Linked DNA regions of Homo sapiens: region 2 is linked to region 1. Evidence: fine-mapped expression QTL. Tissue or cell type: whole blood. Region 1 holds a variant in brackets; the other region holds the start of a gene. All regions are shown on one strand. Distances are between the middles of the regions.

Region 1 (8,102 bases):
TCCAGCCTAGGTGACATAGCAAGACTTCATCTCAAAAATAAATACATAAATAAATAAAATAAAAATAAAAATATATTATTTTTTATCCTCTTTCCATTCCTTCTTCGGTTTTCGTTGCTGTCTGCCCTAGTCCAGGGTCCAAGTGGCCATTGTGGGGAAGAGCCAAAGTCCTTCCATGACACTTTTTTTTTTTGAGACAGAGTCTTGCTCTGTTGCCAGGCTGGAGTGCAGTGGCACGATCTCGGCTCGCTGCAACCTCCACCTCCCAGGTTCAAGCGATTCTTCTGCCTCAGCCTCCTGAGTACCTGAGATTACAGCCACCTGCCACCACCCCCGGCTAATTTTTTGTAGTCTTAGTAGAGACGGGGGTTCAACATGTTGGCCAGGCTGGTCTCGAACTCCTGACCTCAGGTGATCTACCAGCCTCGGCCTCCCAAAGTGCTGGGATTACAGGCGTGAGCCACCGTGCCCGGCCTTCCATGACACTTTTAAGACTACTGTTAGCATTCAGAGGGTGTAGGTCTGTTGGAGTCTTCAAAGCAGAACAGCTATAAGAGAAACCATCTCGATATACAGGATTGTCCGTGTCAATCCCCTGTCACCACCATTCCCTTTGAAGGTTTCCTCTGGATGGCAGAGACTTCCCAGAAGCCCCTTGTGTGGTTCTAGCTTTGTTCCCCAGTGAGAGGCTCTAGAGAAAGATCTAGAAGACAGGAGAGAAGGAGAGGACACTGTCTTCTGAAGGTGCCAGTAGCCAAGTGTGGGGCAAGTGAGATGCCCAGCCCCTCCCTTGGGAGCTCTTGAAAGCCATCCTTGCCCATTAGTGGCAGCTTCTCCCACCCACTGGCGGCTTCTCTGGCTTTTGCTCTGCATGCTCTTTCCACAGTTGTTTTGGTTTTAAAAGGGGTTTTTGGAGACCAAATATTTGAATATAGGAATCTGGAATTGTTCTTTTCATCTTTTTAGATTTGAAGGCCACAGTGACTTCATTGCCAGTAGAAAGTGAGACACTAGCCGTTCATGACATGCTTTGACAAATCAGTTACCTAAATTAGCATCTGTAATTGCCTGGGGTCAACTGCCTATGGCAAGCAAGGCCTTGGGACATCAAGTAGCTATTGCAATATAAGATTCTTATATTAGATTCTTCTTGTAGAACCGGCGGGATTTTTCTGACCATACTGGAAAAAGTGGAGGAAAAATAAAGAGACAAATTTAGGACTGTAAATTTCCAGCTGAAGGCAGAGATAGACCACCAGAGAATTATTAGATTACTCTGAAAGAACTCCTTATTTCTTATGGTCACAGGGCCAAGATTTCTTTTCTCTATCTCTCTCTCTCAGTCTCTCTCTCTTTTTTTTTGGAGTATAGTGGCGTGATCACAGCTCACTGCAGCCTTTACCTCCCAGGCTCAAACGATCCTTCCATCTCAGCTTCCCAAGTGGCTGGGATCTCCAGGTGCGCACCACCAAACCTGGCTAATCTGAAAAATTTTTTGTAGAGATGAGGGTCTCCCTGTGTTGCCCAGGCTGGTCTTGAGCTCCTAGGCTCAAGTGATCCTCTCACCGTGATCTCCCAAAGTGCTGGGATTACAGGCAGGGCCAGGATTTCTAAAAACCAAACTCCAAGTAAAATAAAATACAAATTTAATTCATGACCTTGCTAGATCTCTTCTGTAACAAGGGATTAATTGGGAAGGAGAGAGACTCTAAGAATTAGAAGTGGAAATTTGGGCAGATTTTGATAAATCTGAATACCTTGAACCCCAGACTTCATCTCCCTAGTCATCAATAGCAGCTCTTTTCCCTACTGGAGATCAATCTTCTTTTGCCTCAAGACTTTAATTAACTCACCTGAGGCTGCTGCCCTGAAGGGACTGTTGATTTTACTCCCACCTTTTATTATTTTCAGAACCATAACATCCTGGCAGACCCTCGGGTAATGACGACCAAAGCTGATCTGGGAGGAGGCATTCAAACAATTGCAAGACCTTTGCCAATTTATAATGTCAGAATCCTGAGGAATACGTGAAGGAATGAATTTCAGGCTGCGAGACCAGGGCAGAAGGAACATAACGTTGAACAAACAGAACTGATGAAGCTGGAAGCGCTGGCTGGAGAGCCTGGCTTCAATCTGTCAGACGGAGCAGCTGGGGGCTGCTCTCATAGCTCACTGGGTGCTGCAACCCCAACCCAGGGCCCGTGGTCCATTAAATGCAGTCAGGATGCAGGCATTTACCTTGCTATATCATAGAGGAGGGGATTCAAGGCTTAGGCAGATAGGAACGTTGAAGTGTATTTATGGTGCGCAACCTGCTCAGCCTTCCCGGGGGATGATACAGAGGATGCTGTCTTCATTAAGCCTTTTTAAAAATACTTTGGTGTGATGAGACACAGTGAGGCCTATTGGGGATGGAGAAACCTAGTTCCAATCGGTCACCCGGGGACAGGGAGCTACACTACGGTGCAGATGTGCAGCTGCACAGAGACAAAAATATTATGTAATGAGCATGCGGAATGCCTGCTCAGAGTGAATTGTTGTTAGAACAAGTTTATAACAAGACATAATTTATAACGATGTGCAAACGCTTGCTGGCTGCTAGATGAAATACACAGTTAGCCTGTAAAATATCTTACCAAAACCAGTTCAACGGGAAATAGAGGCTGAGCACGTTGGCTCACGCCTGTAATCCAGCACTTTGGGAGGCCAAGGTAGGCAGATCGCTTGAACCCAGGAGTTCAAGACCAACCTAGGCAACATAGTGAGACTCTGTCTCTACAACAAAGAAAACCCCCCAAAAAACAAATAAATAGTCAGGCTTGGTGACGTGTACCTGTAGTATCAACTACCCAGGAGGCTGAGATGGGAGGATTGCTCGAGCCCGGGAGGTCAAGGCTGCAGTGAGCCATGATCATGCTTTTGTACTCCAGCCTGGGTGACAGAGCAATACCCTATTTCTTAAACAAACAAACAAACAAACAAACAAAACAAAAGGAAGTAGAAATGCTAGTGAGAAAGAAAAAAGATGAGAATGTTTCTGATGTTTATTTTAACCTGATACCCAATTTAATACTAAGCTTTGGAAACCCACGTGGAAGTTGACTGAAGGCAGAGACAGGCCTGGCATCTTGGAGTGGCATTTGCCTGGGACACAGAACCTTGAGAGGTGAATGCCAGCAGACATGTAGAAAAAGAAAGAGTGTTTTCAGAAAGCAAGAAGTCTCCTTTTAAATGGTAAAATACTAAAGAATAGAATAATTATAGAAAAAGTGGAGAAGTGTATTTAATAATCACTTATAAATGCATCAGGCCTAGACAGTTTAACAGGCAAGCTCTTTTGTTTTTAAGCTCATTTAAGATGTTAAGTTCTTACAAGGCAGATTACTTTTTAAGTAACAGATAATCCTCATGTTATTTAAATAATACCAATGGAAAGATAAAGATGGAAGGAATATCCCCCAATTCGTTCAATGCAGCTATTATATCTTAAAATGTGGGATGAAAACACACAAGGCCCTTTAGAAAGAAAACCCAAGATCAAGAGGATGATGCCTCTTTGTACAACGAAGGTCACCTAGCTGCTAATCAGAAACAGTTGCAGGCTAGAGTTTAAAGCTAGAGAAAAGCCTCAAAGCCAAGAGTGTCGCTTTACCTGAACTTAAACTCCTGTCTCCCAGAAAAAAAAAAAAAAAAAAGAACTCTGCTGATGTTAATAAAAGCGTTAATTTACTCATTGTTGCATGTATTAAGTCTCTTTGAAAAGTTTAATTATTTCAAATGCATGTGATACATTGCTGAGGCTAAATTACATAATTCATGAAAATTGATGATGGCTCAAAAATTAGTCAGTGTACATAAATGATTCAACAGTAAGCTTAGCAGATTTCTACAAAAAAGCATGATATTCATAAACTGTGAAACCTCAGTGGATAATTGCAGCATTAAGAGATCTCTACTGTTCTCTTTTTACGATACCAGAATTTTTGAATATATGGTATTTGACAGCTTTTTAAATCTTGAAATCTAAGTGTAAAACAATTCTTTTTATTTATTTTTCTTTTTCCCTTTTTATTTTTTAGTGACAGGGATTTGCTGTGTTACTCAGGCTGGAGAGCAGTGGTGTGATCACAGCTTACTGTAGCCTTGAACTTCTTCTTTTTTTTTTTTTTTTTTAATTTGAGGCGGAGTCTTGCTCT[G/A]TTGCCCAGGCTGGAGTGCAGTGGTGCAATCTTGGCTCACGGCTAATCTCTGCCTCACCTCCTGGGTTCAAGCAATTCTCCTGCTTCAGCCTCCTGAGTAGCTGGGATTACAGACATGTACCACTATGCCCGGCTAATTTTTGTGTTTTTAGTAGAGACGGGGTTTCACCATGTTGGCCAGGCTGATCTCAAACTCCTGACCTCAGGTGATCCACCCGCCTCGGCCTCCCGAAGTACTGGAATTACAGGTGTGAGCCACTGTGCCTGGCCAGCAAGAGGCTTTTGAAAAGATTTACCAACATCTCAAAGGGACAGAGAAATCATTTTCAATGACAAATTTTCTAAAGAAGATGCTCTAAAATAAGGGAGGTCAGGGCCTAGACTCAATGAGAAGCCATCTGAAGTCAAACCAAGCTGAGGAGAACTTTAAGGGCATTTTGGTTGGAGCTCTCTGTCACCTGCCACTGGTGCCCAACCACAGGAGCCTTCTGGTGTGGTCTTAGTCGGAGGCTCATTTTATTAAAACGCCTCACATGGCCACTTGGAGATGGAGGCAGAAACATTTCCCTGGACATAGACCCTTGAGAGGTGAATGCCTGCTGTCATGAGTAGAATATTTTTTTAGTAGGATCAAGATGACTTTTCAGGAAGCGATGCTAAGTCTCTCGAATGGTGAAGCATTTGGCATTCTCTATGCAATCTCTCTGAAGACAGGTGTGTGCAACACCAGGAATTTGTCAACATAGTTTTGAACTTTCTGGCAATTGTGATTGAATAGGAATAATATGTAAAATAACTATTAAAAATAAGAGACAAAGCTCATAATTTGAAGAAGATAGGCTTGTATGTCTAGAAAGCATGTAAGATTTAAATAAGAATTATTCAACGAACAAGACTTCGAGAAGGAGCTGGGTATAAACTCATTACACAAACATCCGTAGCTTTTCTTTGCACTAATAATAATCATTTGCAATAAGATAGGTTGGGAAGATATTGGCCACAAAAGAGGAAAATGAAGAAAGCAAGCAAGCAAGCAAGAAAAAGGAAGGAAGGAAAAAGAAGGAAAGAGAAAGAAAGAAAGAAAAAAAAAGAAAGAAAGGAAGGAAGGAAGAAGAGGAGTAGGAGGAGGGGAAGAAGGAAGGAAGGAAAAGAAAAGAAAGAAAGAGAGAGAGGTGGGAGGAAGGTGGAAGAGAGAGAGAGAGAAGGTAGGCTGGCACTGAAATCTTAAAATCCTGGAGATGAATCTAATAAGAACCTAGGAAAAAGCTTTTAAAATTTGCTGAAGTAAAATTCCCAAAATAAGTGGAAATCCATAATTATTGGATCAAAAGAGCCAGTATTACAAAGTTGTCAAAACTGTCAGATCTTCCCAAATTAAGAATTAAATTTAGCGCAATTCCAATAAAAATTCTAAGAGGACATTTTTATGACTTGATAAATTGATTCTAACAATAATTTGGAGGAATAATAGCGTAATCGTGTCCAATAAAATGTTGAAAAGGAAGACTAATGAGTGAGGATGCCAAATATCAAAACACTCCATAAGTTATAGCAACTGGAAAAGCATGACGTAGTCATAGGAATACAGAAGTGTTCAGAGGAACAAATAAAAATTGTCTTAGTTAGCTCTCACTACACATTGAACCTAAGACCCCATGATACCAAAAGCATCAGAACTTTCTTCTTGTGCGAAGAGGGAATCATTCTTTCTTTCTTCTTCACTGTTGTCTTTTATTATTATTATTATTATTTTTAAAGCAGACTATGGCCTGTAATCCCAGCTACTCGGGAGGCTGAGGCTGGAGAATTCCTTGAACCTGGAACCGGGGAGGCGGAGGTTGCAGTGAGCTGAGATCGCGCTACTGCACTCCAGCCTGGGTGACAGAACGAGATTCCGTCTCTAAATAAATAAATAAATAAATAAATAAATAAAACTAAGCAGACTATGTCAAGGTCTTCATGCCCCTTCCCAGAAAAGCTTGCCTTGACTTTAACAAGAAAGAATTGTATAATGTCTGCAAGTTATTTGCTCAAAGTTGCCTTCTCAGAATTATGCTGAAAAGCCCTCTGTGCTTGGAATTCCACTTGCCTGCTGTGTATGTATGTATGTATATACTTCACTTAAAAATCAGAGGAAAGTGGCCGAGCACAGTGGCTCACGCCTGTAATCCAAGCACTTTGGGAGGCCAAGGCAGGCGGATCACTTGAGGCCAGGAGTTCAAGACCAGCCTGGCCAACTTGGTGAAACCCTGTCTCTACTGAAAATATAAAAATTAGCTGGGCGTGGTGGCGCACACCTGTAGGCTGGAGATATAGTAGGCATAATCCCAGCTACTCAGGAGGCTGAGGCAGGAGAATCACTTGAACCCGGGAGGTGGAGGTTTCAGTAAGCCAAGATCACGCCACTACACTCCAGCCTGGGTGACAGTGAGGCTGCCTCAAAAAAAAAAAAAAAAATTAGAGAAAAGTGATGGCATCATCATCCCAAGCGGTAAAAGACAATTGTGATTCAGTGTCACGTGGGCCTGGAAACTCCTCCATTTCTCCATTGGGCTGTTGCAGAGGCTCTCTTGCACATGGGCAGATACTGCTGGTGTTGCCATCGTGCAAAGGAGACGTGGTGTAAAGCCAGACTCTAAGAATGTCCAGGAGATTGAAGAATCCCACCTTCAAGCAGAGGTCTGGAAGCAGTGCTGGGATGTCTTGTCTGGATTGTGCCTGGCAATGTAATGAACAGGAAATAAAGAGACACGTTCTTTGATGAATCTCAGGCTCTTGGGGTTGCACAACCATTTCACGGGGATCAAGATGAATCACTTTGTCCTCTGTTCCAGCGAGGGGAGGCCTTCCCAACCTCAGCCAGCCCTAGGGGCACACCAGGAGCAGCAGAGAATGGCTTCCTAGAGCCCAGGCAGCCCCGGGATCCCAGAGAATGATGTTCTGGGCCTGGGAGGCAGATTTGGATCATGCCTGAGAATTCACCAAGCTGAGCCGCCCCCATGTAAGGCCACTGGGAATAATCCCAATAGTTTCCACTTGTCAGCCTCCAGTCAGAGGGAGTCTGCCTCTCATGGTCAAAGTTGCCAGGCCTGCAGACAAAACACTGGGGCAAGGCAGGTCCCCAAAGCCATCGTGGAGCAGGATTGGTCCAGGATGAAGCTTTCACTGCCCATTCATGGGAGGAGAAAACCCTGGAAAATGAAGGCAAGGAAAATGGCCAGCTGCCTCTGTTTGAAAAGGGCCATCCTGCGCGCTGAGATCAGAATTCTTTGATTACTTCGTTTGTATTAAAATGTCCCTTTTTACCAGCCTGGCCAACATGGTGAAACCCTATCTCTACTAAAAATACAAAAATTAGCTGCGCGTGGTGGCACACACCTGTAATCCCAGCTACTCGGGATGCTGAGGCACGAGAATTGCTTGAACCTGGGAGGGGGAGGTTGTGGTGAGCTGAGATCATGCCACTGCACTCCAGCCTGGGCAACAGAGTGAGACTCTGTCTCAAAAAACAAAAAATAAAATAAAGTAAAATAAAATAAAATAAAATAAAATAAAATGTCTTTTTTTTAAAGTAGAAAATGATGTTGATAGTAAATGATATTTTCTTTTTTATTTAAAAATAAAGTTGTATTTTTCTTTCTGTTTTTAAAAATTTTTTACTCATCAATATAATTGAAAACTGTCTAGAAACCACATCTGTAGAGGTAGGGAAACAGAGAAGTAAGTTGTAATCAAGAACAACAAGGTCTCCAATCTGAGCTTTGTAGAACAAACTCCAGCATGGGGAAGAAGGCAGGAACTCAGTTGTCAGAGGCCACACAGGGTGGCCCAGCTCTCAGAAGCAAGGGTGGGCCCAGGGATGAGGACAGAGGTTCAAGGAAGTATAGGCACAACTGTGACCCTGTG
Region 2 (8,102 bases), 49 kb before region 1:
GGCCAACATGGTGAAACCCCGTCTCTACCAAAAATACAAAAAATTAGCCGGGCTTAGTGGAGGGCACCTGTAATCCCAGCTACTCGGGAGGCTGAGGCAGGAGAACTGCTTGAACCCAGGAGGCGGAGGTTGCAGTGAGCCGAGATCGTGCCATTGCAATCCAGCCTGGGGAACAAGAGCAAAACTCTGTCTCAAAAACAAAAAACAAACAAGAAAAAGTGCACTAGCCTGACCCGGCGGTGCCAGGCTTCTCACTAGGCAGTCAGTCTGGCACCAGAATCCGGACTTCTCAGACACACACTCTGTGCAGGCTCCAGGAGTCTGGCGAGGCCAGGTTTTGCCTGTCCAGCCTGGGCTCTCTCTGGCCCTTCTAGCAGCAGCAACAGTGACTTCGCACCTCCCTCCCTCTCCTCTCTATCTTTCCTGCATACCAGAGACAGTGCACCAGCTCGCCAGCCCACTATGCCAGGCCAGCCCACAGCCTTCCTGGGTGTAAACTTCCCAAACACTTTAAGCCCTTTGTGCTGGGAAGCCACCGTTGTGCAGGTGAGAGGAAAGGGCCCCTTCTGCCAGGCAGAGGCTGAGCCCCCACCAGGGCACATGGCTGGGTGTGTGGAGTATGGGCTGCAGATCAGCCCTCACTTATCCCCTGTGTGAGGCCCAACCTTGACACCCACTGCATGCAGTCCTGCCAGCGAAATGAAGGGGGCAGGTAGAGAACAACATCTGTGGACCGAGTGCCTCTGTGGGCCAGGTCACATGCTAGGCACCGCAGCCTTGGGCGGGTATTAGGACGCCTGCTTTATGAATGAGGCCACTGGCAATTAGAAGAATAAGTGCCTTGCCCGTGGTCACAGGAGGCAGCCTCAGGATTTGCAGCCAGAATTTGACCCCTCAGGCTGGACTTCCCCTGCCCCAGGTGCCATGATGACCAGGGCCTAATGAGTTCTAGGGTGACACCCTGTGCCCACCCCCACAGTCTGGCCGCAGCTGGCTTTTAGGAACCTACTTCACCCATGCGGTCAGGCCTTGTGCCGGACACCGAGGCACTCTTGCCTTTGCCAAGCCCTGGGGGGAAACGTCAGGCTGCAGGCAAGAGAGAGTGAAATTGAGGATAGTTTAGAATTCAGTGTTGAGCACAGAGGGCCCCTATGTTTGCCTGGGGTGGCAGCAGAAGAGGTGGGAAGGCTTCCTGGAGTAGGAGGAAGTCCAGACTAATCTGACTTTTCCAGGGGCCCAGGAAGCCTCAGCACGGTCTTTAGGGTAGGGAGGCTGCCAAGGGGTGTTTGGCTAAGGGGTGATCCCCATTATCTGCGTTACAGCACAGCTAGGGGGCGCTGTGCTGGCAGATGCTGCAGGTTCCTTCCTGAGGAACCCTATTGTGGGAACCACAGCAGCCCCTGTGCACCCCCAAACACTGTCCCCTATTCTTGAGGATCCTTGTTTCCCTCACCCAATCATCCATTTACAGTAGAAAGAGCCCTGGTTTAGGAGCCAGAGAGCCCCCCAAATCAATGTAAACCCCACTCCACTGCTTAACTGGTTGTGTGATGTGGGTGTGTAGGGTCTCTGGGTGGTTTCTGTTCCTTATAATGGAGCTTCTCACCTCCACCTCTTAGAGCCAAGATTAAACAATAAATGTAGAGGGGCAACCACCATGCATTACATCTGGCTGGTTTTAATAATCATTAAAAACGGTTTAGGTCGGGCGTGGTGGCTCACACCTGCAATCCCAGCACTTCGGGAGGCCAAGGCGGGCGGATAACGAGGTCAAGAGTTCAAGACCAGCCTGACTAACATGGTGAAACCTCATCTCTACTAAAAATACAAAAATTAGCTGGGCATGGTGGCATGAGCCTGTAGTCCCAGCTACCCGGGAGGCTGAGGCAGGAGAATCGCTTGAACCTGGGAGGCAGAGGTTACAGTGAGCCGAGATCGCGCCACTGCACTCCAGCCTGGGCAACAGAGTGAGACTCCATCTCAAAATAATAATAATAATAATAATATTGCATTATTTCTTCCATTACTCTCATTGGTGGCCCTGGAACTGCCAGCAGCAAATCTAAAATCTTAGAATTTCAGGGCTTGGTGGGACTTCAGAGATCTGAGGTCACCCTGCCCCAGTCTCCCTGCTTGATTGGCACTTCTCACAAAGGTCTGTGGGCCATAAAGGAGGGTGTGAAGGCAGGCTGTGGGTGTCAGGGAGGGGTAGAAACCAGGTGCCTGTGTGATTCAGAAGCCGGGATCACTGTAGGTGAGGGTGCCCTGGGAGTGGAGGACCCCAGGACGTAACCGCCCCAGGCTCATGTCAGAAGGATACACAGCTGCACTGAAGCAAGCGTGAGCCGCAGGCTGGATCCAGGGTACCCCTTGAGGAGCAGAGCTTGGGAGCTCCTCTTGGACCTCCCCAGCCTGGTCCCTCCTGCCCACCCCCTCCCCCAACCACCAGACACTAGGCTTTGAGGATTGCTGTGAGCATTTTAGAACAAAACCTTTTTTTAAAAAGAGGGATGAGGCCAGGGATGGTGGCTCATGCCTGTAATCTCAGCACTTTGGGAGGCTGAGATGGGCAGATCACTTGAGCCCAGGAGTTCAAGACCAGCCTGGACAACATGGTGAAACCCCATCTCTACCAAAAATTTAAAAATTAGCCGGGAATGGTGGCACATGCCTGTGGTCCCACCTACTTGGGAGGCTAAGGTGGGAGGATCGCTTGAGCCTGGGAGGCGGAGGTTGCAGTGAGCTGAGATGGCGCCACTGCACTCCAGTCTGGGCCACAGAACCACAGCCTGTCTCAAAAAACAAAACAAAACAAAAGGTCAGGGTTGGGAAACAGGGAAAGCTTCCAGGCTGGCCTCTGCAAAAGCTAGGGAGGGGCAATGGTGTCCCCCAGTTTGCAAGAGCCCATGGCGAGCTTTTCAGGAATTTTGCCAACTGGTTGTTAAATACAGCTATTATTAAAAATTGAATTACATCAACTTATGATTAAACGGGCTAAGTTCAAAACAGGCAATTTTTTAAAAAGCATGAACCTTCAGGGAAGAGCCAGGTAAACAAAGGCAGCTGGTACCACGTGGGCTTCAGACCAGGGATCAGGCCCGGCCTCAACTCTGGGTGTGTCCTCCAGCAACTCGCTCTGCCGCTCTCTCCTGTCTTAGTAAGTTTCTGGCCTACTCCTCAGGGTTATTGTGGGAATTAAGTCACACCACGGGAGTACCCAGCAAAGTGCCACACCAAGCAGGGCTGGACAATGTTAGTTCCTTTCACTCACTAACAAGTTATTGGCTAGTGTCTCTTCCTGGGGCCTCTGGGTCAGCGGGGTCTCGTCTCCCTGTCCTCCTCTCTCTCCCCCGCCCTCTCTGGTGCCACCAGGTCACCCACTTCCACCCAAGGCTCCCCACCCGCCACTCGCCACGACCCCACCCGGCAGGCCGCCCCAAGCGGACAGTCACCCTTAGTGCCAACGTAGCGGCGCGCCTTCTCTCCTAGACTAAGCCCCCTCTTCCGCCCAGGTCCCGCGCGGGAGCCCCGCGCCGAGCACCCCCAAAGAGCCACTCCCTCCCCCTCCAGAAAGGCAAGCCGCCACGCCGCGGCAGTTACCCGGGTCTCGGACTCCCGGCTTCCTGGCTCCGCCATGGCCCCCGCGGCGCGGCGCCCCCTCCCCGCGCCCGCAGCTGTCCCCTCCTCCCGCCACCAACCTGCAGCGGACCAAAGGGAGGAGACTCCGGCACAGCCCACCGCCGCGGCCACTCGGAGCCGCTGCTGCCCGCGCCTTCCACTGGCCGGGCCGTGGGGGTACGCCCGCTCCGCCCAGCCCAGGCCCGCGCGGCCCCCGCGCCACCCGGCGTCCCCCTCAGACCCCCGCGGGTCCCGGAGGCCCCGCGCGCGAGGTTGGCAGGTGCCGGGCGCGAAGCGGCCGCGCGGGGGAGGCGCGGGATGGCGGCGGGCGGCGCAGGGTCCCCCTCTGGCGGTGGCGCGATGGTGCGCGCCGCCTGGGGAGCTGCGGCCGGGGGTTTGAACCGGCCAACTTCTCCAGCCGGCCGGGGCGAGCGCCAGCGCGGCGTCCGGGGCGAGTGAGTGCGGGGCGGGGGCAGCGGCCGGGCGCCTGGGCCGCCGGTCGGGCCACCTGCTGCCCGGGGAAGGATAGCGTTGCGAGAGTGGGACGGGGTGCCCCGGGAACCCCTGATCCACCTAGGGCAGAGGGCAGCGAGCTACGGGCCGGACTCGGGCACTCTGGAGGCGGGCGAGCTCGGGCTGCCTGGGGAGGCCGCAGGCGATGGCGTGTGCGCGGCTCGCGGAGCTTCCTAGCCGTGCGCCCACCCCCTCTGCCTTGGAAGGAAAGGGGATTCTAAGCCCAAGATGCCATCGCCCCCCATCCCGGGCATGCTTTCATTGCTCTTTCCTGGCGGGATCGAGTACTGTAACTTCTAGGAGCCAGATCCCCGCCCCAGGAAGCGCCCCTACTTGGAGTCCTCGGAAACTCTTGCCCCACCCGCTTCTGCGCTGGGCCCCCGGGCCGGCTGGGAGGGGCGGGGCCGGCTTTCCAGAGGGAATCTGCAAACTTATCCCGCTGCACGCCCCAGCCTCGCTGGCTTGCTGTAAACAAGGAACCCGGGGGAGTGCGGAGGGAGAAAGAGCTTCTCCCAGGCCTCACCCTACTGCACACACCGACTTCCTTCCTCACGCCTGTCTCTCTTTCCTGGTTCCCACCCGTGCCAGGTGACACGCAGAGCTGAAGCCATGGTTCATCAGGTGCTCTACCGGGCGCTGGTCTCCACCAAGTGGCTGGCGGAGTCCATCAGGACTGGCAAGCTGGGGCCCGGCCTGCGGGTGCTGGACGCGTCCTGGTACTCACCAGGCACCCGAGAGGCCCGCAAGGAGTACCTCGAGCGCCACGTACCCGGCGCCTCTTTCTTTGACATAGAAGAGTGCCGGGACACGGCGTCGCCCTACGAGATGATGCTGCCCAGCGAGGCTGGCTTCGCCGAGTATGTGGGCCGCCTGGGCATCAGCAACCACACGCACGTGGTGGTGTATGATGGTGAACACCTGGGCAGCTTCTATGCTCCCCGGGTCTGGTGGATGTTCCGTGTGTTTGGCCACCGCACCGTATCAGTGCTCAATGGTGGCTTCCGGAACTGGCTGAAGGAGGGCCACCCGGTGACATCCGAGCCCTCACGCCCAGAACCGGCCGTCTTCAAAGCCACACTGGACCGCTCCCTGCTCAAGACCTACGAGCAGGTGCTGGAGAACCTTGAATCTAAGAGGTTCCAGCTGGTGGATTCAAGGTCTCAAGGGCGGTTCCTGGGCACCGAGCCGGAGCCGGATGCAGTAGGTAGGTGTCCCAGTGCTGGGTGGTCCCTGGGGAGTATTGCCCCATGGAAGGATAGGGAGTAAGGATGACTGGGACCCTCTCCAGGGTCCGTCCCATGCCTTCAATCCTCCCATGTAGGCCTCAGTCTTTCCATCGATAAAACCAGAAAGTGGAGACAAACCTAAAGGCTTTTTCAGCTTGGATGCACAAGGACCCAAGAATGTGTCCTCATAGCCATGTGCTAAGAAGCCACCTAGCATCTGTGTGAGCAGAAGTCACTGGTGACATGTCCACCACCTCCACTCCCAGGCACCAGCTGCCCCACATGTACTAGGATATACCTAAGGGTGTCATGCCCCTGAGCCAGCGTTTGCATTGCTGTACAGAAACCTCCCACGGACACATCCAGCTTCTCCAGGCCTCTCTCGTCCCGCAGAAACCCTTATAGACATCAACAGTGTCCCTCCCCGCAGGATCCCCCTCTCCCCAAATCTAGCTCTCCTGGGGCCCCTGCCTGCTGTTTGCAAAGGTTCCATAACCTTTCCAGGCAGCTGCAGCCCGTCGGCAGAGTTGTAACAGCAGCTGCCATTTCATGCCAGACACTTGGCACCGCATTATCTCAGCGAACAAAGCTCAATGCCCCTGTTTTGGCAGCGGGGGGTGGGGGGACTGAGATGCCAGGACATAAAGTGGTGGAAGGCAGGATTCGAATCCAATGCTGCCTTGTTTCAAACCAGGGCTATAAACCAGGACGCACCCAATGCTGCCCTACCCCTACTTCCCAGGGCCAGGAGGGAGTCCCCTCTGCTAGTTGCCCCAGGAAGGCGACTCAGAAGTTCCCCTCCTGTGGAAGGGAAGGCCAGGTGGATTGGATACTGCTTGAGGGTTGGGGAGAGCCTCAGGAGAGGAAATGCTGAGTTCTAGAACCTCCTAGCCAGACAGAACCTCGGAGGTCTTCCCTTTTCTAGAGGCAGGACTGCCGTCTCGCTGCCATCACTCCTGCTGAGTGCCCTCCAGTCCCTGCCTGGCCATTTCCAGGAGCAGGGCCCTCTCTTGTCTCTGGGCACCTCCTTGGTGGCTCTTTCCTCAGTCAGAGCTCCTTCTCTACAGAATCTAACTCGTGTGCAACATTTTGCCTGACTTGTTGAAAAACATCTCTTCCTGTCTGTACCTCCTACAGAGAGAATGCTGGGAAAACTGTTCTGCACACTCTTAGAGCTGGAGGGCCTGAACGGTGACCTCACCTGACAGAGGGGAGACTGAGGTGCACAGAGGCAGGGGCCAAGGCCGCATAGCTAGTTAGTGACAGAGCCAGGACAGCAGGGTCTCTGCCCTTTCCAGCGCAGCTTTTTCCAGGCCCCATATTTTTCTTGCCTGCTTGCTCTCTGAAGGTCTGGAGTTGAAGATTCAAGTTCATTTGGCACCTCCCAGAGAATCCTGGCTGGGAACGCCTGCAGCCCTCTCCTGGCCTTGGTTCAAGACGCCTCTTCTCCTTGGGATTTAAGCTGTCATGGGGGAGGATCAGTGGAATTGGTTCTCTTGCTGCTTCCCAGCCTGCCCTGAAGCAACCTAAGAAATAAGTGGAAGGGACAGCTTGGAGGTGCCAGGCCCAATGTCCTCACCCATTTTACAGATGAGGAAACTGAGGCTCAGAGGAGGAGAATGGCCTGCAGTGGGTAATGCCTCCTGAAGGCCCGGGATGCTGAAGTTCCTCCTCTGTAATTGTGTTCACACCTCCTTCAGTTTCCCTCAGGAGCATCAGGGAACATGGATTCTCATTTCAGCTCAGCCACTCCTCCTTGGAGTGACCTCAGTCCAGTTGCTTGGCCTCTCTGGGTTTCCTTATCATAAAATGAGAAGAGTCACGCCAGCCCTACCCACATGAGTATGCATTTGTTTAAATGTAGCAGTGGCGGCCGGGCGTGGTGGCTCACGCCTGTAATCCCAGCACCTTGGGAGACCAAGGTGGGCGGATCATGAGCTCGGGAGTTCGAGACCAGCCTGACCAACATGGTGAAACCCCGTCGCTACTAAAATGAAAAAAAAATTAGCCAGGCGTTGGTGGTACGTGCCTGTAATCCTAGCTACTTGGGAGGCTGAGGCAGGAGAATCGCTTGAACCCGGGAGGTGGAGGTTGCAGTGAGCCAAGATCGCGCCACTGCACTCCAGCCTGGGCAACAGAACAAGACTCTGTCTCAAAAAAAAAAAAAAAAAAAAAAAAAAGTAGCAGTGGCTGGAAAGGGATTTCAAGAAGGGTAAGGAACGATACAAATCCTGGAGGGTGTGGCACTTCCCCCCCAACCCCCTCCTCCAAGAGGCTTTGCTGGCCTCCCATACAAGATATTTTGGGGACACAAAGGCACATGAGGCTCTGCCAAGTTTATGGTTCCCAGCGTGGTGTGGGATCAGGGAGGCACCCTGTAGGTTCAGCGGTCCAGATGTAACACACAGGGGCATGGGGGTGGCAGACCTGGGGGTCAGGCATTGGCCCTGATCATCTCTGGAAGGAATGACCCTAAATGGAGCGAGAAGCAGAGCTTAGACACCTGGCGGCCACTTCCTGCTCACCTTAGGCAAGCGCCTTCCTCTTTGGCTGTAGTTTTGTGCCTCCACAAGCTCTTAGTCCTGGAGTCAGCCAGATCTGAGGTTCCATCCAGGTGTGATACTGATGCTTAGCCTCAGGCTAGTGCCTTCACCGCTAACTGTTGTTCGTGAAAGGAGCGCTGCTCACCTGAGAGGAGGGCTGGAGGAAGTGAGAGAGGCAGAGTAGGAGTTTATCCAGCCCAGT

What was found. PIP is the estimated chance that this variant, and not a neighbour inherited with it, causes the effect.
Region 2: it holds the start of TST, and the variant in region 1 is fine-mapped to the expression of TST in whole blood (TOPMed, PIP above 0.99).

The regions. Positions count from the first base shown.
Region 1 is chr22:36,965,980-36,974,081 of GRCh38, reverse strand. It overlaps LL22NC01-81G9.3 (a long non-coding RNA gene), which reads right to left. Exons shown (of 4, transcript NR_038954.1): 2 at 7,575-7,692; 3 at 6,494-6,914; 4 at 5,910-6,096. Among named protein-coding and RNA genes, the nearest start is that of LL22NC01-81G9.3, 4.8 kb to the right of the region's middle. The variant G/A (reference allele first, on the strand shown) is at 4,197.
Region 2 is chr22:37,015,371-37,023,472 of GRCh38, reverse strand. TST (thiosulfate sulfurtransferase) reads left to right here and starts at 4,026. Exons shown (of 3, transcript NM_003312.6): 1 at 4,026-4,073; 2 at 4,720-5,335. The coding sequence starts at 4,741. It overlaps MPST (mercaptopyruvate sulfurtransferase), which reads right to left and starts at 3,731. Exons shown (of 3, transcript NM_021126.8): 1 at 3,601-3,731. The coding sequence starts at 3,636. RefSeq lists silencers at 3,415-3,734, 3,745-3,864, 3,895-4,284, 4,445-4,504 and enhancers at 3,978-4,479, 4,508-5,483.